2 linked regions of the Homo sapiens genome follow. The protein of the gene in region 1 binds, or shares a complex with, the protein of each later gene. Each region holds a gene or a part of one and is shown on either strand. Other genes may lie near its edges.

Region 1 (12,441 bases):
TGGTTCTTACAATGGTGGATAGGTTAAAAATTGTTTCTTCTGCCACAAGTTTGTTTCTAACAAGTACTATACTCTATCATATGAATTCAGAGAGCTTCCCATTCACCTGACATTTAAAAGAAAAAGATCTTATAAAACATGCCTGCCTATTTTGCAGTTCTGCATGAATGAAAGCACCTGTTTTCCAAGTTAAAAACAATGTGTGCCTTTTTGTTTGTACTAATTCAAAACAGAAACTTGCCAACTGTCTGTCAGTAAAACGTGTTCATAGAAAGCTTGAAATGTGACTTTACAAAGTAGTATATACCATTAAGCATTAAAATTACAACTACTCAATTTCTAGATCTGAAAATAAGGAATCCTTATTTGTTCTGGAAATCAGTGGTGGTGAGGGCTGCACAACACGCCTGTAATCCTGGTATTTTGGGAGGCCGAGGTGGGAGGATCGCTTGAGTCCAGGAGTCTGAGAGCAGTCTAGGCAACATAGGGAGTCCTCATCTCTACAAAAAGTGCAAAAAAGTAGCCAGGTGTGGTGGCATATGCCTGTAGTCCCAGCTACTCGGGAGGCTGAGGTGGGAGGATCAATTGAACCTGGGAGGTGGAGGCTGCAGTGGGCCAAGACTGCGCCACTGTACTCCAGCTCGGGAGACAGAGTGAGACCCTGTCACAAAAAAAAAGCAAAACAAAAAAACAAAACAAAAAAAAAACCACCCAAAAAACAAACAAACAAAAAAAACACAAAATCAATGTGAATGTAGCCAATGCCAGAGAGCTGTACACTTAAAATGGCAAATTTAGTGTTAAGTATATTTTGCCTGATTAAAAAAAACATACAGCACATAAGACTTTATAAAACTGGAAGTGACAGTAGAGATCATCTTGCCAAGAATATGGCTAGAAAATTTACCACTTCTGAGTCATTTTCCTCCAGCTTGGAATGCTGTGTCCCTACCCCACTTGCACCTTCCAACCCCTATCAAAATCATTCTCAAGACTTAGTTCAAATGCTACCTCCCTAGTTTGAGGGTTATTGCACTTGATGTACTCACAGATAAGCAGGCTATTAATATGAAGCAAGTTATAAACACATATCTGGGGCTGAGCAGAGAGGATGAAACCAGAGACATCAGTTTAGAAGTTGTCAGACGAAAGTAGATGAGATTAACCACAATATGCAAAAGAAGAGGAATACACATAGTAGGCATTAATAAATAAGCGTCTGTTGAATTGAATCTAACATGGGGCTTCTTAGAGGTGTATTATATTAAGTTTAAAGCTATTCCTATTTTGAGAAAAGAACATTTTAAGAAGGAACAAACTTTCTAGCCTCCATTTTCTTCAAGTTTTATAAGAGAACTCCAAAACAAATGTTAACAATAAAAGAATATTCCAGAGGCATTGAGCATACATAAACTGGCTGTAAGCACATACAGTTTCAGTGAAAAATAAGGAGAAGGCCACAAAGCCGTACAGATGATTCTGAAATATTTTACTTCATTCAATTCTTTTTTTTTTCATAAATACTGGTGATGGTGGGTGGGAGGCAATATTTCCTTAACATACACAGAAATCTAAAGGCAATTTTCAGCAGCAAATAAAGGCATGATTCAAATTCTATTCAATGCCTGAGTGTCATTTTAAGATTTACACTGAACTAGAAAAATATTTAAAGATTATAAAAGATTATTCCAATATTATGAGATCAGAAGGGAAGGGTTTGCTTATTTTAGCACTCTTCATAAAGACTAACTTTGTCAAGAAAATCTGCCCAGTGAACTAAAATTAAAGGAAAACACTGTGGTCATACTGATGTGTTTGTCTGGTTTTTAACTCTTGTTTTCAAAAATGAAGTTATACAGTGAGCTTAGTCAAAATGAATACCTAGTACATTTTTTGCATGTCTCAAGGAAATCACTACAACTGCATACAGTTTCAAAGAACATATAATTTTCTCTCAAATGTAATAAACTTTTCCTCCAGCTTACAGTGAGGTCTTAGTTATGGATGACATCCTGTGTAAGAACAACCCATTTCCCAGTTTGCTCAATTAACTTGACTCACAAAATCCTCCATGTCACCTGAAATGGAACAATGGGCCACAATAAGTATGTAAGTTGACTGATAACACAGTTCCCTGATGGCACAAAGAGGATGTGGCCTTGACTTATGTTGACTACATGAAACAGAATCCTGTTATATTTGACGTGATTTTAGTTTAGAAAAAAATACAAACCCACACAGTCATACTATGTTGTAATATAAATGGAAAATAAATGAGTTGGTCAATTTAAGAAAGTGATTTAAATACATGGTATGAAAACGTTGTAAGATTATAGAATATTTCTTTCTCTGTGTGTATATACATATGTCTCAAGACATATGTATATACACACAGATTTATTTACTTTAAATAGATTCAGAACACAAATAATCAACATAAGCCAGCTGCACATTTCTACAATTTTATCATGAAGCAACATGTTCTTCAAAGTAGTGTTTTATATCATAGAGTTTAGTTAATGATGGGTGAAGGAGATAAAAATAATTTGATTTAATCCCTTAAGAAGCTATCTTGGACGATGGTTTTGTAGCACTGGCTGGTCTGAGTACACTTTACAATCAAAATTTGGGACAAACAAAAAACTAGTTTTTAATTATTTAAAGATTAAGTAAATACTGGGTGACTAGTACATGTATACTACTGTGCAACTTAAAAAACACTCTATATGAAATCTTAGGAAAAGAAGATAGAGCTGTCACTCATTTTCCATGGGAGTATTGAATATGAATAAATAAGCAACCAATAAAATTGTCAAACCATATCAGTACCAATTTTCAATATATTATGGAATAGCCATTTTAAATAGGGCGTATTTAATATTTTAGGTCAGCAACCAAAAATAGTGTTTTTGTCACAGGTGCCTAAAAGTAGCAAGGATTCAGTTTTGCCCTAGAGTGAGTCTGGAAATACCGGGATTCAGTCCAGAAAGAGTAAACCAGAATGAGCAAATGATACACACACAGACACACACACACACACACACACATACACACACACGCACACACACACATGTACCACCAAGGAATTGTATGGGAATTAGGAGGAGAACCTAAAACTACTGAGACTGCGTAATCACTCATGAGATCTCTAAAAAAGAATATGATGGGCTGAATTAGCTTTTTAGGAACAAATATGACAGCAAAATTATCACACAAAGGAGCAAATAATTATGTATGTAGTAAAATACAGTAATAGCTAACACTTAGATGTAAATGCTGAAATTGGATAGAAATTACTAGCATTATCACCTCCTTTTGGAGGCCTTTTATTCATGCCACTCCTGAAAAGGACAGAAGTGACTACTTACTAATTTGTGCATCATCTATACCTTGTACATACTTTAACCATAAAATTGGCATCATTTCAGTGCAAAACTGGACTGTGAGTGCCTTGACAGCAGTAGTGAGTTTGTTCACTTTTATATCTTCAGCACCTAATACAGTGTGTAATATATAGTGGCTGTTTGGCTGCTTAATGATTCATTCTACTATGCATTCATACCACATACATCCAATATTAGAATAAGTCGGGTTTTGTAAACAGGCAGTGAAATTTGTGATAAATTTCTATATCAGTATTAACCAATATAGATACAGATAGATGGAAAGCGATGACAAAGTCACCAAGACGGCAGAGGAGATACCAGTTTTAATCATCCCCTCCCTCCACATATACATAAAAAGCCCCCAAATATAGACAGCTATCCACAAACCCAAGTAACTCTGGAAGGATTCAAGGGCCTATTTAACAATCTGCAGCAACACAGTGGAGCAAAAAAGAAAGAATAACTCCACAGGAAGGATCACTGAGGAGATCAGCATACCTGAGAGGCCAGGAAATGTCTAGGAACAAAGATGAAAGGTGGAGGCTATTGGTATCACTACACAGTAGAAGCCATCATGGTCCCCAGTGGCCTGCTCTGCAGAGGACACTGGCATCTCTTGCTACTGAGGTAGTCAACAGCCATTTCTGCCAGGGAACCCCAAGAGGAATACATGACTACAAAACTCTCTCATCTCAAGAAGAAGACATTGTTGAGCCACATGGAGAAAGAAGCCACCACTCTGAAAACTGATGCAGCTCCAGACCTCTGAGTCATGGCCACTCCACTAGTGCCCACACTCCAGACCCAGATTCTGCGTCTTCACTGAGCTCAACCATACCTCAGACATTGGAGCCACTGCCACAGTGAGCTAGCTCACACCCCAGGGCCCCGGAGCCAAGGTTTCTCTGAGTGTGCCTATGCTCCAGACATCCACACAGTCACCACTGAAAGCTAGCCTGTGTTCTGGACTCCAGACCAGCTGAGTGGTTGCACTGGACCCACCCACAGCTCAGACACTTGAGCTAATCACTGCCATAGTGAGCTAGCTCACATCCCAGGCTCTGGAGACAAGGTCCCTCTGAGCGTGCCTATGCTCCAGACATCAGCTCAGATGTTACAAATAGCTAGGCCCTACGCCACCCTCAGAGCCACTGTAGCTCTGTGCAGCAGTAGGGGGTATTTGTACCTAGGACGTTGGTATTACTATTGGCTTGGGCCCCAGAGCATGTCCCTCCAGATATGCCTATGCTTGAAGCCTTAGTTCTGTGGCCACTCCATGGGCATCACTCATTAGACACTAGTGCCACCTCAAGTGGGCCCACAAGCAGACCCAATGCCAAAAGGGATCTACTCGGCTATGATTTCTCTGGTGGAAGAAAAAGAGACTGGGGGGACCCTAGCAGCTCTTGCCACCAAAGACCTCAAACAGCCCTCACCACTGTTGTAGACAACCAAGGTATTGACCACTGAGGATCCCTGCAATCTTTGTCAACACTAATCTCAAGTGACAAAGCTGCACAGGAACTATACTCCTATGCCCTCATTGGAGCCAGAACCACTGCAACCCACCCAGCCATTGCTCTCACACTGTCCTACAGAGGAAGAAGGTCTTTTCACACTGAAACCTGTAATGTCTGGAAGAGGCGATTGCTCTATCAACTGCAGAGACATCAACATAAGGCAATAATAAACATGAAAAACCAAGGAGACATCTCACCACCAAAAGAACACAGTAGTTTCCCAGTAGCTGACTCCAAATAAATGGAGATTTATAAACTGCCTGACAAATAATTTAAAATAATTGTGTCAAGGAAGCTCAGCAAACTTCGAGAAAATACAAAGAAACAAGTGAAATCAGGAAAACAATAAATGAACAAAATGATAAATTTAACAAGTAGATTAAATCATTTTAAAAACTCAGAAATTTCAAAGCTGAAAAATACAATGAATGAAATGAAACAATACAATAAAGTGTCAATAGCAGAACTGATCAAACAGAAGAAAGAATCTGTGAACTTGAAGACAGGTTATTTCGTAAAGGTATAGATGGATATCCGAAGTTTTATTTGGTCAGCAGAGGATAAAATGATAGCATTAATTTTTACGCAGGCCAACAGCTTAATTAGTTATAGATACGCTCTTTTTGGCCTATAGATCAACCAGTAACAACAAACACTTCCCTCCTTTTAAACCCTGAATGGCAAAGATCTAGCACAGCCTTCATTTGAAAAACTGCAATACAAGGATAAACAATTTTAATTTTAAAATGATTCAAACTCCAAACTAAGCTAGAGTTCATGGGGGCTTTTCTTCAACTATTTATTATTCACATTTCAACAGACACGAATCCTGACTTCTAACTCTGGAACCCAAGGACCACTGGGTTTTACCAACCAGTTTTCTGCTATGTAGTAACACCTCCATCTGCTGGAACTTCAGGTGTCTGCTAATCCCATGATCCTGGAACCAGTAAAAATCCAACTTTTATTTGGAGGGGGAGGCAGATGTTATTCCACTTAATTCCATTTTAACAAATATTTACCACATGCTTAAGATGTACCATACCCTGTGCTAAGGAATGTAAGTACCAGGACTGGTTAAGCTAAACTCCCTGCTATGAAGGAGCTCACAACCTGGTGGGGGAGAGAAATGTGTAAATAACTACCATAACTCAATGAAATAAGTGACATACTTACATGTTCCATCAGCTCTGAGGTTGAGACAGTTAAGACCATTGAGAATAGTGTCTGGAAACCCAGGGGGATAGCTCTTTCCTGACAAAGGAGATGTCTCCAGGACCAGCTGCATTTCTGCTCCTCCATCAAACCAAAAGTTCAGGTGTGGAAAAGGGGTGCAGCTGAGTACTGGGATGCATTCAGAATACAGCTGCTAAATCTAACAACGGTTTATTTGGCACTATAAATGGAGCTGGATTCTGCCTGGAAGCCATAGACTGCCAAATCCTAATTTAAGACATTGCCTTTCAAAAAAATAGAATTAAAAAACTTCTAATGAAAATACCTTATGACTTAAATAATACAGCACACACATTACCTTTAAATATGACCCATAGTATTTTGTTACATATGAGCTGTCACATTGACTCAAGACAGTTATTTCTTGCTGAATGTCTTCTATTTCATCTTCGGCTTCCTCAAGGTCTATGATTTTAATAGCAACGACTTGCTGGGTACGGTTATCAATTCCTTTGAAAACTTCCCCAAATGAGCCTTTCCCAATGCGCTCTAATTTTGTGAACAGTTCTTCTGGATCAGCTATGTTATTCTGAAGGGAGTGGGGAACGAGAAAAAGAAAGAACACAAATGTTTTGAATCAAATTTTTTTAATGAAGGAAAATAAATCACATAAGACAATAACACATTTTTGTAAAAGCATACAAACTCCTCTGACTCCCCACATGTGCTTTGTTAGAACAACTGTAATCCCAAACAGGCAGCTAGTCCATATTCTAGTGAATCATACACACTAACTGAGCTTAGCTGATCCTGCTATCACAAACATTCTCACACAGCAAATATATCCAGTGCATGCCAAAACATCAGGCACTTTTTGGAATAAAGCCGCTGATTATACACAGTTTACACATTAATGCAAATGTAGCAATAGTGGGAGAATATCTAACCTAAGCTAAGGTGAACTGTTTAAGTTTCTAACATTCTGCCAATATTACCTTTTAACACTCCTCTCTCTCCAACTCGGATATCCCAATCATCTTAGCTACACTTCCAAACCGCCATCTAAATAACACAGACCACAAAAGACTCCAGGCTTTACAGGTCTTTGTTTTTCATTAGTTGGAATCTTATCTATATGTAATCTTATCATCAATAGCTGAACTAAGATTCTATACCTTTGTAATAATTGCTAGTAATCATGAGAAAATGGTAACACATTGAACTTTTCACAACTCATGTCACAGTGAAGATCCAGAATAATTTAACACTTCACTACAATAAAATCTGGAATAAGCATAGGCTTTCAAGGTTAACAAATGTATAGGCATGACGTAGATTTATAAATTCACTGTTGTTTCCTGATTCAGAAATATTCTGTATCTTATAATATACAATTTTGAATTAAAATTTTACCCCAAGACAAACTTTATATACTTACTTAAATTCATCTTGCTGAAAATATACTGCTGATCAAGTAGAAACTCAAGATTGCCAACCCTGCCAAAAGCACATTAAGTGCTTTATTAATCAAAAACTTTGAGTTCCTTCAAAATATAAGAGGATTCTATCAAGTTCTGGTGAGCTATCATGTCTAATTTGTTAACTGGACCTAGAATAGCTGTTCATTTACTACAGTTTTACTTAGTTTCACTTCATCATCAATTTCAGAAGACAATTATGGAGTTAGCATGTCCCTTTTATCTTCCTTTATTAGACAAAGAGGGCATTGAAAATATTGCTTTTCTCTTATCAAGTTCATTGCACCATGATCACCAAATGGACACACTACTACTCCAGTAAACCACTACCTTTTGAGGTAACTCCAAAACTCATGACTGCTTTTAAAGAATTTCACCAAGTTCTCTTTTTACACAGCCTAAAATACAGTTTGTACATGACCTGTTTACCTTATAAGCTTCCCCATTCTCTCTGATTGGATTTTTTTCCATTTCTAAAAGTTGTGCTTTCCATATAGAAGTCTCTGAGACTGCAAGCTACTTGTGTATCCCCACCCACCTCCAGTACCCACATGGAACAAACACATCTTGAGCTTTCCATATGGGCTTTTAAAAATAGCTTAGGCTTCCAGTAGGTTGCAAATGCATTTTTAATGCCCATATTTGGTTATAATACCTTCTCAAAAACTTGAGTGCCATCATTATTGATTTCCTTGGTGTCCTCTTTTACCAAGACATTGTATTTCATTGTGACTACTAATACATAGTGGCTAACCCACAGTTACCTCTTCCTACTTTTGGTGATGGTCCTTGGCTTTGTAATACCTTGTGGAAAAAATACTTACTACATAGCTTGGTGATGGGTTCACCTCCTTATAACTTCCTTTAGAAAAAAATATTTCTGTTTTCCTGATACAGTTATAAAACAATTCTAAAATTTGGGAATGTATCATTTATTTGAAGATACATAGGATATATCTTCTGATAAGACATTCTGGGAAGTGTATGTATTCATTAACTTTATAACAAGAATCTTCTGTTGTTAAAGAACAAAAATGAACACTTAAACTTCCTAATTAGTGTTTTAAAAGGATTTGATTCAAACAGTCAACCTCAGGGAGGATATGGCTGTTCCTTGCTTCCTACAATAAATGGGTTCTTGCAAATATGTAAATCAAAAATTTTAAAACGAGGTCACATTTTGCATTTTAAAGAAGCACTGAAGTAAACTCTAATCCATGGATATAGTTTAAGATTTTAAATTGAGGAATAGCAAGTTAGACACAGAAAAAGAGAAAGATCCATCATTTATACAATGTTTGCACTTCCTACTCTTTTATTTTGCATCTAACAATGCTCCTACAAAACACCAACTTTCAGAGTGGAGGGAACTATGAAAACAAGATTTCACTAATATAACCTCACTTCCCTAACTAGCTAAGGGATAGAGACCCCTGCCCCATTTACTAATCTTGAATCCCTGATAGATAATACAAAAGTTATAATTTCCCCTTCATCATTTTAAACCAAAGTATCCTAAGTCTTTATTAAGACAGGTTTCCTTCCTGCTTTTAGCACAAGAGAAAAGATCAAGTAAATAAATAGCAAGCATCCCAAGGAATGCAATTAAAAGCCACCTAAACAAAGAATCTAGTTTGCCTAATCATTCCCATCATTCTTTGGAACCTCTAAGAAAAGTCAGCTCCCTCTCCATCCAAATCAAATATTCTTTTAAGAATACTGAAATTCCAACCCAAATGCCCATCAATGACAGACTGAATAAAGAAAATGTGGCACATATACACCATGGAATACTATGCAGCCATAAAAAAGGATGAGTGCATGTCCTTTTCAAGGACATGGATGAAACTGGAAACCATCATTCTCAGCAAAGTAACACAAGAAGAGAAAACCAAACACTGCATGTTCTCACTCATAAGTGGGAGTTGAACAATGAGAACACATGGAAACAGGGAGGGGAACATCATACACCAGGGCCTGCCAGGGGGTGGGGGCTTGGGGGGGATAGTATTAGCAGAAATACCTAATATAAATGATGAGTTGATGGGTGCAGCAAACCAACATGGCACATGTATACCTATGTAACAAACCTGCACGTTGTGCACGTGTACCCCAGAACTTAAAGTATAATAATAAAAAAATACTGAAATGGCTAAATATTCCTTACCTCTACTGCAAAAATCACAATTTATTACTCTATCTGCATTTGTATTGCCTTCTCAAAGCTGCCCCAAAAAAAGAGCTCTATGTTCTGTAGTGTCAAATAGGAGGAACTGCTAAATTAAGCTCATATTGACTTATTAATGACAGATGATTTCCGCGTGCCATACCAAAACAGGGCTACGAAAATGAAAACCTCAAAGATCCACCTCCTCAGGGCAATCAGATTATTCCTTGGCCCTGTTTTATCTGTTATTTAACTTGAATTTGCACTCTTCAACTATAAGTACACTGTTAGAAATTTAAGTCTTATTCAGAAGGTATCATTACCACTAAAACAACAATAACAACAACAACTATTTAGTATGGAAATACTCTGAAGAAGTCCAAAAGGAAACAATGTTAGGTGAACATCTTGCTTGTCTCCTGTGCAAAGTAAGGAGCAGATAGAAGAAGCCTTCTTGGATACTTAAACCACAGAAACAGACAGCTGAAAGAACTCTTACAAGTTCTCTAGGTGCTCTCCAATCCTGGCTATAAATTAGAACTACCTATATCACTTTTAAAATGTGGATACCTAGGCTTTACCCCAAAACTACTGATTCAGCCTACTGAGACTGGGGCCTTGCAACCAATACTTCTGAAAAAGCACCCCAAATGATTCCTGTGTAGTCATTTGAACACTAGTCTCGACATCAGCACTTGGGAACCACTAAGCAGATGGATGTGAAATTTGTATCCTTGATTACAGGGAACCCATTATCCTTATTTTTCCCAGGCAAGCATATGGGTCTCATCTAATTCTGTACATTAAAAGTGGACAAGTTGGAGATTAAAGTAAAACTAAGAGGACTTTGGCATTTACTATACATACCTATATTTTTAAAAATGAAGTCTGCAATACTTCTTCTAAGGATATGTCTCTAAAATTAGCACTGGTGACCCTTGAACAACATGGGTTTTAACTGTATAGGTTCACTTACACACGAATTTATTTTCAACCAAACACAGATCAAAGATACAATATTTCCAGAATGTGAAACCCATGTATAGGGAAGGCTGACTTTTCATATATGTGGGTTCCGCAGGGTCGACTGCATGACTTGAGTATGCACCAATTTTGGTATACACAGCAGAAGAAGGTATCCTGGAATCCCGAGGGATGACTCAAGATTAGAAACATAATGTTTGTCAAAACACAAGCAACATATCCCGTACACTTTGTATACATATTCTTAAACATTGTTTATACCCAATATAGTCTATGTATTGTCGATAGGGCCTATAATAGGTTAAGATGTGACTGATGACAGAGTTTTGAGGATAACAGCCAACATTGATGAAGGATAAAATTTTAGATCTAGTTAGTAGAAAATGGGTCAACTTGTGGAGGGGGGCATTAGGAATTGGTGGCCAGGAGAAACAAGAACATTGAAGACGGATTTAGAATTAGTCTTGGAGTTCTCGCAGAATGGGGACCTAGAGAGCAAAATGTGGGAAAGAACCAAGGTAAAGAATCTAGTTCTTTGAATTTGAACTACCTAACTAAGACCCCCAGTAAGACTCTGGGACTGAGAGTGAAAACATAATAGATGTAAGGAAGAGGAGGCAGATTTCTCACAGGATTTGACCTGGAAGGATTCAACTCACGTATCCTAAAAGAATCTTCCAGAACTAAGAACCAAGCTGAGTAAGGTTGAATTGTTTTGCACCTGCCTTCCTACATTAATAAAGCCCATACTATGAATGCTGTAGCTATAAAATAACTTTTTGCACTTTACAAAGACTGGCCTGTATATAGGCCTATCAGTGACTCATTGATGAGGAGGAGTGTTACAGGAAATAATGAGCAAATAATGTGCTAATGATATCAAGGCTTAAAAGAAGATTTCTTACTTCCTTGAAGTCCTCAAGTGGGAACACCAGGAGTGACTTGCAGTGAATACAAAGTGCCCTGACAATCACAGAGAGCAACTAAAAACTTCAGCCTAACAATGTACTAAACTAGAGATATTTAGCTACCTGTTTAAATTGATCAAATCAGTTCTCCCAGGCTAGAGACGAAATGTTTTTCTGGATTACTTCCATGTATATACAGTTTCCTGTCATCTAAGAAGCAGAATGCATATAAATAAAAGTCATTCTCTAGTTGGTTTATGAGCCTCAAATTAAATTACTGTTCTATTATGATTGCCTGTGTTAAGATTTTTCACTTGCCCTTATGAACATTGCCTAAAATGTTTGCTGAATGTTTCCTAATCAAGATATCATTTTTTTAAAAAAAAGGAGATTTAGGCCAGGTGCAGTTGGCTCATGCCTATAATCCCAGCACTTTGGGAGGCTGAGACAGGTGGATCATTTGAGCTCAGCTGAGTCCAAGACAAGCCTGGGCAACAGGGTGAAACCCTATCTCTACTAAAAAAGAAATACAAAAAATTAGCCAGGCATGGTGGCACGTGCCTGTAGTCCCAGCTACTCAGCACACTGAGGTGGGAGGACCACCTGAGCCTAGAAGGGCGAGGCTACAGTGAGCCATGATCACACCACTGCACTCCAGCCTGGGCAACACAGTGAGAGCCTTTCTCAAAACAAAACAAAACAAACAAACAAACAAAAAACAGAATTTTAATGTCAACAGCCGTATAACTCTTACCAGTGCTGAGTTCGAGAAAACAGGACACTATCTTTTTTAAGTGCCAGATATAATCCATATACAATTGG
Region 2 (12,441 bases), on another chromosome or scaffold:
CCACAAAACCCCAACCCATCATATCCCCTCTCTCCAAACTCCACCCAACCCAGGCAGAGCCGGTCACTCCTCCCCCAAAGTCCCCAGTGCCCTCAACAGATGGCACCGTCACCCATCTTACTCCAAAGGGTTTATTGAGACAAGTTTTCACATACAAGATGGGGACAGAGGGGTTGGGGCTTATAAACAGGAACCTGGAAGGGGACCGAGGGTGCAGGGTAGAACCAAACAAGAGAGTGAAATAAATAGAGGGAAAGAGTGGAGACAGGGAGGAGACTGACTGAGACCATCACACAGTGATAATGCGGGTGGGGCGGCGCCATGAAAATCCCGTTATTTATACAGATATACAGGGAGTTCAGGGGGACCCGAGGCCCACTCCACCCTCCATGCCCCAGGGAGGGGCACAAGAAAGCCGTCTCTACCCATGGGCGACCCCATGGGGCGCTGGGAGGGCTGCCCTAGGAGTGTTGGGCAATCCCTGGCCTGGAAGCCTTGGTTAGTGTCTGGAAAGCAGTGGAGAGGGCCGGAGGGGAGGGGCAGCCAGGCCGGGGCTCAGCTCTGAGGCTCCCGGCTGCCACCCTTTCTCCCAGCACAGCTCCTGCCCAGGTCTGGGAGGATGGGGGATGGGGGAGCAGGAGCTCAAGGGGAGAACCTGGCACCTTCTGGAGTCTTGGAAAAACTGATCCCTAAAGACACCCGGCCCTGGCTGTGCTGCCCTCTGGAAAGCAGCTCTGATACCAGGAGCGGCTGTCAGGGCACAGGGGGAAACCCCGAGGCCATCCTCGGGGGTGATTCCTGAAAGGGGCCCATCCCCAGGCTGGATGCTTGGGGAAGGCAGCCGTTGGGGAGGGATTCCTGGGGAAAGGGCCGTTAGCACCACCAGGCTCCATGGCAAACAGACAGAGGCCAGGCCTCTGCACCTCCAGCGAGGCTGGGAGTCCCCTGCGGGAAAGAGAAGGGAGGGGAGACTGAGCCGCCGCCTCTAGGGCGCCTCTAAGGCCTCAACCCCTCCCCTGCATGCCCAGGGCTCCCCCAGTGATTCTCACAGGACGCCCCTGACTGGACTGCGGGGCTCAGCACACCTGGCAGTACTAGGCATGGGCGTGCAGAGACTCAGAATGCGGGGTTTCTGCCCTCACCTCAGCCCCACCTGCCCGGCCCTACACCCCAGCCAGCGTGGCGGCCAGGGCAGGGCCAGGTGGGCATCATACGAAGACCTTGGCCAGGGCATCAGCGCCAGCACTGGCAATGAGGGCCTTGCTGGGGTGGCAGGCAACAGCGTGGATGGCCTCCTCGTGCTTCTTGCGGTGGGCCGTGATCTCCTGCACGCACGTTTTGTTGTCCAGGCTCCAGAGACGCAGGGAGCAGTCATGGCCTGCACATGTGTCGGGGACAGAAGGGGTGGTCACTGGGCTCCTCGCTCAGACGCAGCCCTGGAACCCCTCACCTGGCCTTGTCCAAAGGCCTCAGGGGAAGTGGGGCTCAACTCTCCTCTCTCACCCTCTGCTCATCACCTCCTGTGGCCCGCCCAAAGGAGAACCCTGGTCCCCTCCTGTCCACAGTCCATCTCATCCCCCAGCATTTCTTGAGCAGCTACTGCACACTGAGCCCCAGGGCGGCAGGGGCAGTGAACAAAACAGGCAACTCTCCCTGCCCCGCAGCACTGACGCTGCAGCTGGGCAACAGGAAGAGAAAGAAGAAAGCAACCCAGCCGGTCAGTGTGAGGACAGAATGGCCCCAGGAGGAATGCAGGGAGCCTTCCAGGCAGAAGGACAGGCGGGAAAGGTCCTGAGGCAGGAGGTGGGGGTGGCCACAAGAGCCTTAGCAGGGACTTGGGGAGAAGAGGGGAGAGGACGGCAGGCTGGGCAGGGCCCTGGCGAGGAGAAGTTTAATTTAGGGTCAAGAGGATCAGGCAGGGCAAAGGCTCAGCTCCCTCCACTGTCTAGTGGCCCCCAGAATAGAGCCCTGTCTGGGCACTGGGCTGGAGCTCACTGACCAGCCCCTCACCCACCAGAGGCTGCCAGCACAGGCCCGGAGGCAGAGCCCAGCCACAGCCTCCAACACCACGGCCTGCGCCTCTGTGCACACACACTCACTGCTGCACTCACTGCAGGCCTCACCCTTCACCCCCACAGCGACCTCCAGTCTCCTTCTCCACCCACCCACGTCACACTCCATCCCTTCTAAGCACAGCCACGTTGCTGGCCTCAATGCCCTTATCCAGAGACAACAGGGTGGGAGCACAGAAGTCCCACGGGTACCCCCAGGTAGACCTGGACTGATGTTACAGAGCTTCAATGGCCAAGTTACAAAGCGTCTGGGCATCAGGGCCCACATCTGTAAACTGGGGATCAAAGTACCAACCGCACAGGCTGCTTAGAGGCCGAATGAGACGATGCAGCTCCAGTGACCCAGAGGAGGGCCCCAGCGGACTGTGCTGCCCCCTATGGTCACCACGGTCATTCCCGCCCAGACCAGCCTCCCCCAGCCCTGGCCCCCGGGGCCCCCTGAGCACTTGCCTGGAGCCAGTGCCCAGGCCTCTTCCTCCCCTTCTCCCCAACCCTGGTGGGACTAGTGTGCTCAACTTACTTCCTGACATCAGGAATGCGCCGTTGGGGTCCACGGCTAGGCAGGTGACTGCGTCCAGGTGTGCAACCATGGAGTGCACCGGCTTACCTGAGGCGAGAAGGGCGGGTGGCAGGTTCCCCTCCCACTCTGGGCCTCGCCTGAGAGAGTGAAAGGACTGGACGAGAGACTCCCAGAGCCTCCCACAGGGACGCAAGCATCTCTGCTGCCTGCCTCTGGCCCTCCCCACCCACTACGAGCACAAGGGGCTAGGCCTCACCTGTCCGATTGTCCAGGAAGCGGATGCCCCTGTCGTCGTGGGCGGTGATGGTGAGAGGCTGGTTTGGATGACTCACCACTTGGTTGATCTGGGTTGGACCTGAAGGAAAACGCAGGAAGAGGGAAGGATGTCAAGCAGAAAATCAGGAAGACCAGAACAGAGGCACAAGCGCAGCGTGACAGCCCCTACACCAGCCTCTGCCTGGATGTCGAGGGGGGCTGGGCGAGGGCACTCCGGTCCCCGACCGCAGCGCTGGTTCTGCACAAGCAGCCCCTGGGCCCTGTTTTGGGGCGGGGGAAGAGGAATAACAAACATGAACACATTCCGCCACTCTACCAAGAGGGCCCGACGGGGCGGCCCTGACGCGCTCTCCCCACTCAGCCCCGCCAGTGCCCTGGCTGTGAGGGCCGGGGGCCCTCCACTGGGACCCAACTTCCTTCCTGCTCAGGGCCTGAGGGTGCAGGGGAGTCATCTGAGCTGACTGACAAGGGGTCGCCAAAGCCCCAGGAGGAAGTGGGGCCCAGAAGACACTGAGACCAATTCCATGAGCTGATGTCAGCCCCCTTACCGCTGCTGCCCCGGGACTCCAGCGTGAGGAGGGCACTGCCAACCTCCATGTCATACAAGACGGTGTCGCCAGAGCGGAAGGAGGCCACGATGTGGGCAGGCTCGGTGCTGGTGAAGGCCACTGAGGTGGGGACCCCGTGCTCTGAGGGCACAGGGAAGAGAAGGCTGCTGAATGGACCCTCAGACCCAGCCCTGCCCCAGGGTGGGGGACAGTGGGTGGGAGGCCTGGGGCCTCAGCAGGAACCACTCTGATAGCCTCCAGATCCCGCACAGCTCCAGGGTGAGGCACCGGGGCCCCCACTCACCGCTGGCTGTGGGGAAGGTGCAGAGGCAGGCCGGGCTGCTGCTGCTGGGGTCCCAGATGCGGACGGTGCCATCAGCAGAACAGGAGGCCAGGCGCTGGGAGGTGGGACTGAAGGCCAGGCCCCACACGGCGTCCCCGTGGCCCTCCAGGACGTGGCTCAGCACGCTTGGGTCTGCACCCACCGCAGGGAGGAAATGGGCTGTGTCAGGGCTGCCAGCTCCTCCCTGGACAGCCCAGAGCCCCAGCTCTGCCAAGCCCCAGGCAGCTGGGCTCCAATCACCCACGCACCCACTTCACACCTGGTGCCCCTCGGAACTGTCCACTGCCAGGACAGCCCGGCAGCTGCTCACACTGCCCACTAGCTCTCCAAGGAAGGTTCTAGGGCTCCAGAAGGCAGGGATTTCCCTCTATTCACAGCTGTCTCCCCAAGCAGGGCCCAGAAACTGGGAGCTCAATACAGAATTTTTCGGGCTCCATTAAGGAAGAAGGAACAGCATGGTTCTGTGGCCCCAGGAGCGGCACGCAGCCTGTGCTGGACAAGGGTTGGTCCCAACCCTGGCCCGAGCAGTCTTTTCAGCCCATGGCCAAGTGCATGGGCTTTGCCTGGTCTCTCCAAAGCCCCCTGGTCATTCAGAGGTCCAATCACTGCTTCCCTGGTTGCTGGAGTCCACACCAGCAGCTCTGGCCTGCTGACACCGAAAGTGTGGTGGCTAATGTAGCTGGGACCGATCCTGACCTTGTGCAGGTGAGCCTGTTCTCTAAAGTCTGTCCTCCCCTTGAGAGGAGACAAAGACCTCTGAACTCTGCCCAGACAAGGTGGAGCACAGGGCCAGGTGCATGATCAAGGAGGCAGAGCCGGGCGCAGTGGCTCATGCCTGCAATCCCAGCACTTTGGGAGGCCAAGGTGGGTGGATCACCTGAGGTCCGGAGTTCAAGACCAGCCTGGTCAACGTGGTGCAACCCTGTCTCTACCAAAAATACAAAAAATAGCTGGATATGGTGGTGCGTGCCTGTAATCCCAGCTACTCGGGAGGCTGAGGCACGAGAATCACTTGAACCCAGGAGGTAGAGGTTGCAGTAAGCCAAGATCACGCCACTGCATTCCAGCCTGGGTGACAGAGTGAGACTCTTTGTCTCAAAAAAAAAAAAAAAAAAAAAAAAAAGGCAGAGAACAGGGGGACAGATGTTGAACAGAAGTGACAGTCTGGTCACTTCCCTACTTAGGTCTTAGATGCTCCAAAGAGAAAGCCCCAACGCGCTCCAGCCTGGCCCAGCTAACTCCACCTTCTCTGCTTTCTCTGGACATGCCCTCCCCTCAACCACGCAGAGACCCTGGCGGATCCCCACACACAGAGTACACGGCATGGCAGAGCAGAGGCTGCCAGGGCCAGCCACGCCTGTGCATGGGCTGCTCCCAGCCTGGGCTGCCTCAGCACTGCCTTCTGGACGCCGGCTCACAGAGATTCTCAGGCAGCTTCACCACCTCCTCCCACAGCCATCATTCCCATCCCGGCTGGCTCGTCCCTTGGCCACGCGCTGCATCGCGCTGCTCACAACAGAGCAGACAGGGGAGCCGTCACACGCACTCCTGAGGCCTGCAGTGTTGGCAAGAGGTGGACGCGACGTGTGTGTGCGTGGAGGGGACGGCCAGGCCCCAGTGGATGTGAGGGGAAGGCGGGAGGCGTTGTCCTCACCGTAGCCATCATAGGGATCCATGCTGAGGTCTGGAATCTTCCAACTATGGATGCAGGCATCTGCCCCGCCACTGTAGCAGTATTCACTGTTGCTGCCCATAGCCACAGCCAACACTGGGCCCCTGGAAGGGACAAATATGTGGAAAGGGGGATGAGACAAGCTCAGGGCCTCCCCTGGCCACAGGACCTAAGTTCCCTACTAGCATTCTTCAAGGATGGCCAAAAGGAATTCAGTGACTGGGGCTCTGGCCATGCTACCTGGACAAGCTGCCTGTCCCCTGCCCTCCCCCACCCCACCTCCATCTCCTCCCCTGAAGGGCTGTGCTGAGTACCAGCTGCCAGGGCATGTGAAAGTCAGCATGGAGCCCCAAGAACCAGGGCTGTGTATATCATGAAGGGGGCGGGGACTCAGAGCCCCCTGCTGTCCTGCCTCCTGCCGTGGGCCTCCCGCGATGGCAGTGAGCAGGTCAGGAGTCAGGCTGCATTTAGGACGAGTTTCTAGCAGGCTCAGGGGCACCTCCCTACCTGTGAGCCCGGAAAGCATGTATAGGTTCCACATCTAGCGCCGCATTCCTGTGGGATGACAGAGGAGCCTGATGTCACTGAGACCCTGTCACCCCCGTCCCCAGATGCCCCTGCCCCCGGCTCTGAGCTTGCTGCCCTCACTTCTTGGCCGTGACCGCCTTCTGCAGGTTCCAGAGCTTGAGCGTGCCGTCCTCGGAGGCGGTGAGCAGAGCCGACTGGCTGTGGTGGAAGGCCAGGGAACGAATGCCGTCGTAGTGCGAGCGCAGGGTGAACTTGGGGTTCCACGTCTTCTTAAAAGCATCTTTGCTGTCAGACAGCTGGGGTTGGGGGGAGCTGCCTCAGTGTCTTCGCATCCATCCCAGCAGTCATGCAGACACCGACACCCAGGGCTTGAGGGCCCCTGTCTTCCACCCACATGACCCTGGCAGGAATGCCCTCAGAGCCTGGGCTCCAGCCGGGAACTCTCCCCTTCCTCTGCTGGGCAGAGTCTCCATGCTCGCCCAACAAGTCCCCACACTGCGCTGGGTTCTGGAGAGACAAAGGTGAGCCTGACCCCTTGGGGTCTTGCAGTTGAGAGGAAGGGGAATGGGGGACACAACTGGACCATCCCACAAGTGTGCAGGATCATCAGCCATGAGCAGGGCAATGAATTAAAGATGCACAGAGAGACATCAGGCAGCCTGCCCTCCTCCCTGGGGGCCACTGAGGCTTTCCTGAGGAAGCACGAGCCAGCAGGACTTCACAAGATAAGGAGAGGGCCCTGGAGAGGGAAAGGGCCCGTGCAGAGGCCCTGAGGCAGCAAGGGCGAGCCCAGGCCTGAGAGGTCAGTGGTACAGGCTGCAGGAGGCAAGGAGAGTGGCAGGGGATGAGACAGGTGCTGGGTGGTGAGCCCCGGAGGAATGCGCATTTCATCCTAAGAAAAAGCCTCAGAGAAACAAGGAGCCGGGGAAGTGTTTAGAGCAGGGGAACGACATGGCTTGTTCCTGCCACCCCTGAGAGGCTCAGATTAGGGGCAGGTAAAAGTAGCCACAGACGGGGCACAGTGGCTCACGCCTGTAATCCCAGAACTTTGGGAGGCCAAGGCAGAACGATCATTTGACCCCAGGAGTTCGAGACCAGCCTGGGTAACATAGGGAGATCCCCTCAAGGAGCAAAAAAAAAAAAAAAAGGTAGCCTCAGAGAAAGAGGTTGAGAGGCCAGGAAGTCCCAGGGGAGATGAGGGCATGGAGACCAGACACGTGACCATGAAGGGGAGGCAGTGCACAAGTGGGAGAGCTGTGGGGGCCTCTGTCCACCACGCTGCATGCGCCCTGGTGCCGCTCACCCAGCAGGGGACCCGGAGAGGGCCAGGTTCCGGAGAGATGACGAGCAGAGTACCAGGCAAGCCTCAGCACCATGCCCCAAGATGGGCTCCCAGCTGACGTCCCTGCCTTAGCTGTCCCTTCTGCCACAGTTCTTTAGGGTCAGAGGATCTGCTACTGTGTGGTTCACTCACCCCCTCCCCTAGCGGGGCTCAGAACACTGCACTTCCCCAAGATGAAATGACATCTTGGGGCGTGCAGAGGGACCCCATGGCACACTCCACTTCTCAGGCCTCTGCTCTGACCCCCCTTCCTGAATCTCACAGCAGTCCCCACCCAGCCTTACTAGGGTCACCAACACTGGAAATCCCATTCTGTCACAGTAAAATGTGCACATACACCCACACCAAAAGCTCCCAGCTGGCCAAAGGCTCCCAGCTGGCCAAAGGCTCCCAGATGGCCAGAGGCCCGTCCACTGAGGCCCGGAACATTTCATTTCAGCCCAGCTGCCCATTCACACTAGATTGGCCTGACTTGGCAGAGCAGGGGGTGGCTACAGGTCATCTTCCTGCATTCCAAATCACCAGGGTGGGAGGGGCAGAGTGGAGGAGCCGTGGAACTGTGATTAAAACACAGGCTCCAGAGTCTTCCAGGCCCTGCGCCTTGGCGACCGCAGTCAAGTCCCTCCACTGTCTACATCTGCACCCCTCTGTGAAACAGGATGAGCAGGGCACGGGCGGCACCCAGTCAGAGCTTGCAGGGGCTGGCCCTGGGCGCAATGCCAATGGGGACAGTGTGGGGGGCACCCGGAGAACTTACATCGCAGCTGAGGTCGTTGTCGTTGGTGACGGTGAGATCTGCCAAGTCCCCCAGGCTCACCTCCCCGCCCCCGATAGTGTCCATGATGAAGACGTCTGAGGAGAAGCCAAAGGAACCTGGTAGGGGGAGGGGAGGGAGGGGCAGAGAGGGCCAGGGAGAGAGAGAATGACAGAGAGAGGCAGAGAAAGAGATAAAGAGCAAGAGAGAGAGACGGGGAGAGGACAAGATGAAGAATCACAGCTGGAAAGAGACAGAGAGACAGACAGGGCAGGACAGACAAAAAGAGAGGGAGACAGACAGACAGACGAACTTTTGGGGCAGGGAGGCTGCAGACTGGAGGCTGGGCCTCGACCCTGAAGACACAGAAGCCCTGGGCTCAGCTCTGCAGCCTCCCTCTGCCATGGGCCCGCAGGACTGGGACCAGGTGGGGGGTGCCTCTTACCTTCATGTGGCCGGGGCTGGGGTGTGCCAGGAGGCGGGCCAGTCACTTTTGGGGGCAGCCCATCCACATCCCGCAGGTCAGCCAGAATGCCTTGGAGTTTGACCCGACGGCTTTCTGCAGGGTCGAGGCATAGGGCCGGAGTCACCCAGCAGTTCCAACCCAGTCTGGCATAGGTGACGCCTTCCCCACACTGAGGGCCCCCTGCCACTCTGTGGGGCTGTGAAGCTCTGGCCCTGGGGGAGGGGGGGAATGGGCAGAGGAGAGGAGGTTGATTGGGCCCCTCCGTGGGGCAGTGGGCAGGTCACTGCCTTGCCTAGGCCTCAGGCCCCAGCCACCCATCCCACGTATCCTGAGAGCCCTCCTAGCTAGGAGTCACAGGACAGGGAGGAAGATGCGGCCCTCCCACCTGCCTCTCCCCGACTGGGTCCTCATCCTGTTCCCTCCTTGAGGCCAGCCAGAGCTGGACGCCCGCCCTGGAGGGCTGGCGGCCCCACTTCAGGAAGAGCCAGGACTGCCTGCGTCTCCATGGGGATTTTCCAGGGAAGGGGTGAGGGGCCGGCGGCCATGACCTGGGCCTCCTGCTCTCCTTGGCTACCCTCCTCTCAGGAAACATATCCGTCCGGTAGAGAGACCCTGTACAGGAAGCAGCTGCGGGCAGCTGAGCCTGCTCCCACCCCCTCGGTGGGGAAGGCAAGCGGGGGCTGGCCAGAAAACGTCAGCTCACCCAGCTCATGGGGGCTCCCATCCACAGTGCACCGCCGAGGGTCTGGAGCCCCTTCCCCATCCTCTCCTGAGCCCAGGAAATCAAACTCATTGATAGCATCCTCAGAGTCGTCTTCCTCATCCTCGTCTTCCATTTCGGGCACCAGAGCCTTGGATGGGAGCTGGCACATGGAGAAAGCCAGACAAGTCAGGGGGCCTCTTGTCCAGAGACTAAGCCACCTCCGTGCCTAGGAACAGGTAAGCCGGGGCTCTGGGCCCGTTTCTGTTCATGGGGCTGCCTCAGCCGCCAGCCAGCTGCCCTGGAGCGCCCCCTGCTGGGCCTTGGACAGCTGCTACCACTAGGGCCGGTCGGCCTGACCCCACCCTCACGCAGTCCTTCCCCTAGCCAGGGCTCAGCCTGCTCCAGTCCCCCAGCAAGGTGCCTCGGATGAAGAAAAGTCAGATAATGCAACAATCTGCCTGCAGGGAGGGCAGATATGCACTGGTGTCCGTGTGTGAATATACGGAGGTGCAAACAAGTGAGGATGAATGGACCACAGCATTGCAGCGATAAACACAGCACCAGCAGCCGTGCTGGCACAAGAGCAAATTCCACTCACTGAATGACCACTGACTACCCCTCGCAGACACGACTTCACTTAACCCCCAACCCTGCGAACAGCTACCGTGAACACTGTCATTATCATTCCCACATTACAGGCCAGGAGACAGGCTGAGCAGCAGGAACCCACTTGCCCTAGGTCACCAAGGCCAAGCTCTGCCCACTGTGAACTCCTCCAGGGCGTGGCTGACCCCTTCCACATGTCAGCCCCCCAGGCTGAGTTTGGCGACACCTCTCGGGCACCAGTGAGGGGCCAGCCTCTGACCTGCATGGGGGGGACCAGAGGGAAGGGGCATGGAGAAGACCTAGGGCCAAGGTTTATTCAACACTTGTGCAAAGAATGGGGAAGGGGAGGGTTTAGACAGCATGCCCAGAAAGGCAGCGGCCGGGCTCAGGACTCCAGAGGAGAGAACCACCACAGGTGCTCTGAGGGGCACACGAGTGGCAATTGTGCTCTGCCAACAGTGCCTGGAACCATGAGGGCTCCACCACTACCAAGTGCCACCAGCGCCACTAACACCTACTGAGCACTTGGGGGACAGCCACCATGCAGCTGAGGGCTTCCTGGGCACCAGCTCATTCTAATTAAATCCTCAACAACTCAGACGGAGGGACTCAGCCCCATCTAAAGGGTGAGGAGACTGAAGCCAAGACAAAGAAGTGTGGGCCAGAACTCACGCAGCTGGGCCAGGGCCCCCTGGGAGCCATGGGCAGTCCCCTGGGTTCCCAGCTGGGCCTCGATGGAGGGCTGCTGCGTAGAGACAGAGAGCCCTACCCAACCAGCCAGCCCAAGGGTGTGGGCCCGAAGGGGTGCAAACACCACGGATGATTCCTGATGGAATGGGTGGAGGGGTGGAAAAGGACTAGAAATTCTCAGAGGGGTGGGAAGGACCAAGCGTCTGGACCAGGGGCCAGCATTTGAGACCCTGGACTCAGCCCTCCTGCTCTTCCTCTAGGCCTCCTGCAGTGCTGCGGCTCCGTGCACACCACTCTACTTGGGGTGCGACTCTGTGCTGAGCCACACTGGGGATACTGGAGATGCAGTGGAGGCCCACACAGGCCCAGTCCCTCCCAGGGAGAGGTCAGGAGGAATACAGACCAGACAGGGAGGACCCCAGAGTGGCCAGGGCCAGGGAAGGGAGCCCAGGGTGAGTCAGAGAAGGCTTCCTGGAGGAGGGGGTGTCTGAGCTGAGTCTAAAGGAGGAAAGAAAGGGGACCTAGGCAAAGGGACCCGCTAATGGGAAGCCCGGGGCTCAGGGAAAGCTCCGAGGCCATCTGCCACAGGTGCCTCCTTCATAGGCACATGCCCCTGCCTCCACCACAACGCGTCCTTCTGCACATGACTATTTACAAGGCCGCTGCTGGCCACAAGCTCCTCCAGGCCAGGGCCTGTGTGTCTCCATATCCCTGCTGCCAGCACACACCGCAGCCCCTGAAGGCCCAGGCTGACTCGGAAGGGCTTCGATCAGGTCACACCCAGGCCAGGCTGTGCAGGGCATGGAGGAAGGGCTCACCTTCACACGCTGCTTCTTGTGCTGCACGCTGTCCAGCTCATCGTCCTCGTCGCTGTCTTCGTCCTCGCAGTTCTGCAGGAAGGGGATCTGCCCCAGCACTGAGCCGCCCAAGCGCTCTTTGCCATCTTTGCCTGCCGCGTTCCTGCCAAAGACAGCAGAGCAGAGGAGGCATGAGTCCTGGCAGGTGTCAAAGCTCAGATAGGAAGGTGCCCTCCCAGGCTTGGTGGCCAGAGCCCAGACCCAGCTAACCCCCTAACCCCTGAGCAGCCTTGACTCTGGTCACACACAGAGCCCCAACCCCAGCCTCTGCCCAACAAATGCTCATTCCAACTGGAAGCCTCACTCAGACCGCAAACGGGGCCCAGCTCCTCAATGACCGCCGACCTGAGTTTCAGAGGGCCAGCCCCCAACCCTGGTCACAAATCTCCATCCTGTGCTGAGTCAGAAGGAAAGCTGGATGAGAAAGTGCCACTGACTCAGCAGTCCCCATTCCCACAGCCCAGTCAGACCACAAGGGCAGGTCAGGCAGGAGGCAAACACGCCCTGCAGGAAAGAGGAACCGGCCATTCTACAAATGCTCTGGGAGGCGCCGAAAGCCAGCCAGCCTCGCGCAAGCAGGGGCGCCGGCGATCCCTGCTACCCAGGAGCCTGCACTATCCCCAGCAACAGATGGCACTCCTCCTTCCACCTCCTGGCTTCCAACTTCATGACAAGTTATAGCAGAGGAGGTACTGACCCAGCCTGACTGCGGGAGAAGGCAGGGTGCAATTCCAAGTGCAGATCGACGAAAACGTCCCCCCTTTCTGCCATCAGGTTGATGCCCTGGAGGTCTTGTCAACTGCCAGTTACCAACGGGTGCAGAGGTCACTGCAGATGTACCCTCTCGCCTCACGGCTGCCATCACCAGAGCTCCACTCCATCCTCAGAACACTCGCTGCACTTGCAGCGGGACACAGGACTCCATTCTCACCGGCCTTCCTCCCACAACGACACTGACACGCCGCACAGGCTCAGCCTCTTTCTCAGCTTCCTCCTCCTGTTCCTCCCTCCAGCCTCTAAGTGGGAGAGCACCCGGGCAGTCCCCAGATCTCTTCTCTGCGTCA

What was found.
Region 2: STK26 (region 1) and STRN4 share a complex: the UniProt entries of both Homo sapiens proteins name them as parts of the core of STRIPAK complex.

What each region holds. Positions count from the first base shown.
Region 1 is NC_000023.11:132,048,861-132,061,301, reverse strand, and holds part of STK26 (serine/threonine-protein kinase 26), read right to left. Parts: intron 7,580-12,441; exon of another isoform or gene 7,521-7,579; intron 6,672-7,520; coding exon 6,441-6,671; intron 1-6,440. UniProt on the Homo sapiens protein: Serine/threonine-protein kinase that acts as a mediator of cell growth. Modulates apoptosis. In association with STK24 negatively regulates Golgi reorientation in polarized cell migration upon RHO activation.
Region 2 is NC_000019.10:46,719,394-46,731,834, forward strand, and holds the end of STRN4 (striatin-4), read right to left. Parts: intron 11,481-12,441; coding exon 11,339-11,480; intron 9,385-11,338; coding exon 9,225-9,384; intron 8,615-9,224; coding exon 8,501-8,614; intron 8,299-8,500; coding exon of another isoform or gene 8,154-8,298; coding exon 8,059-8,153; intron 6,256-8,058; coding exon 6,080-6,255; intron 5,987-6,079; coding exon 5,939-5,986; intron 5,536-5,938; coding exon 5,414-5,535; intron 3,892-5,413; coding exon 3,721-3,891; intron 3,558-3,720; coding exon 3,417-3,557; intron 2,948-3,416; coding exon 2,849-2,947; intron 2,680-2,848; coding exon 2,593-2,679; intron 1,379-2,592; coding exon 1,209-1,378; 3' UTR 1,143-1,208; intron 946-1,142; 3' UTR 118-945; downstream 1-117. UniProt on the Homo sapiens protein: Calmodulin-binding scaffolding protein which is the center of the striatin-interacting phosphatase and kinase (STRIPAK) complexes.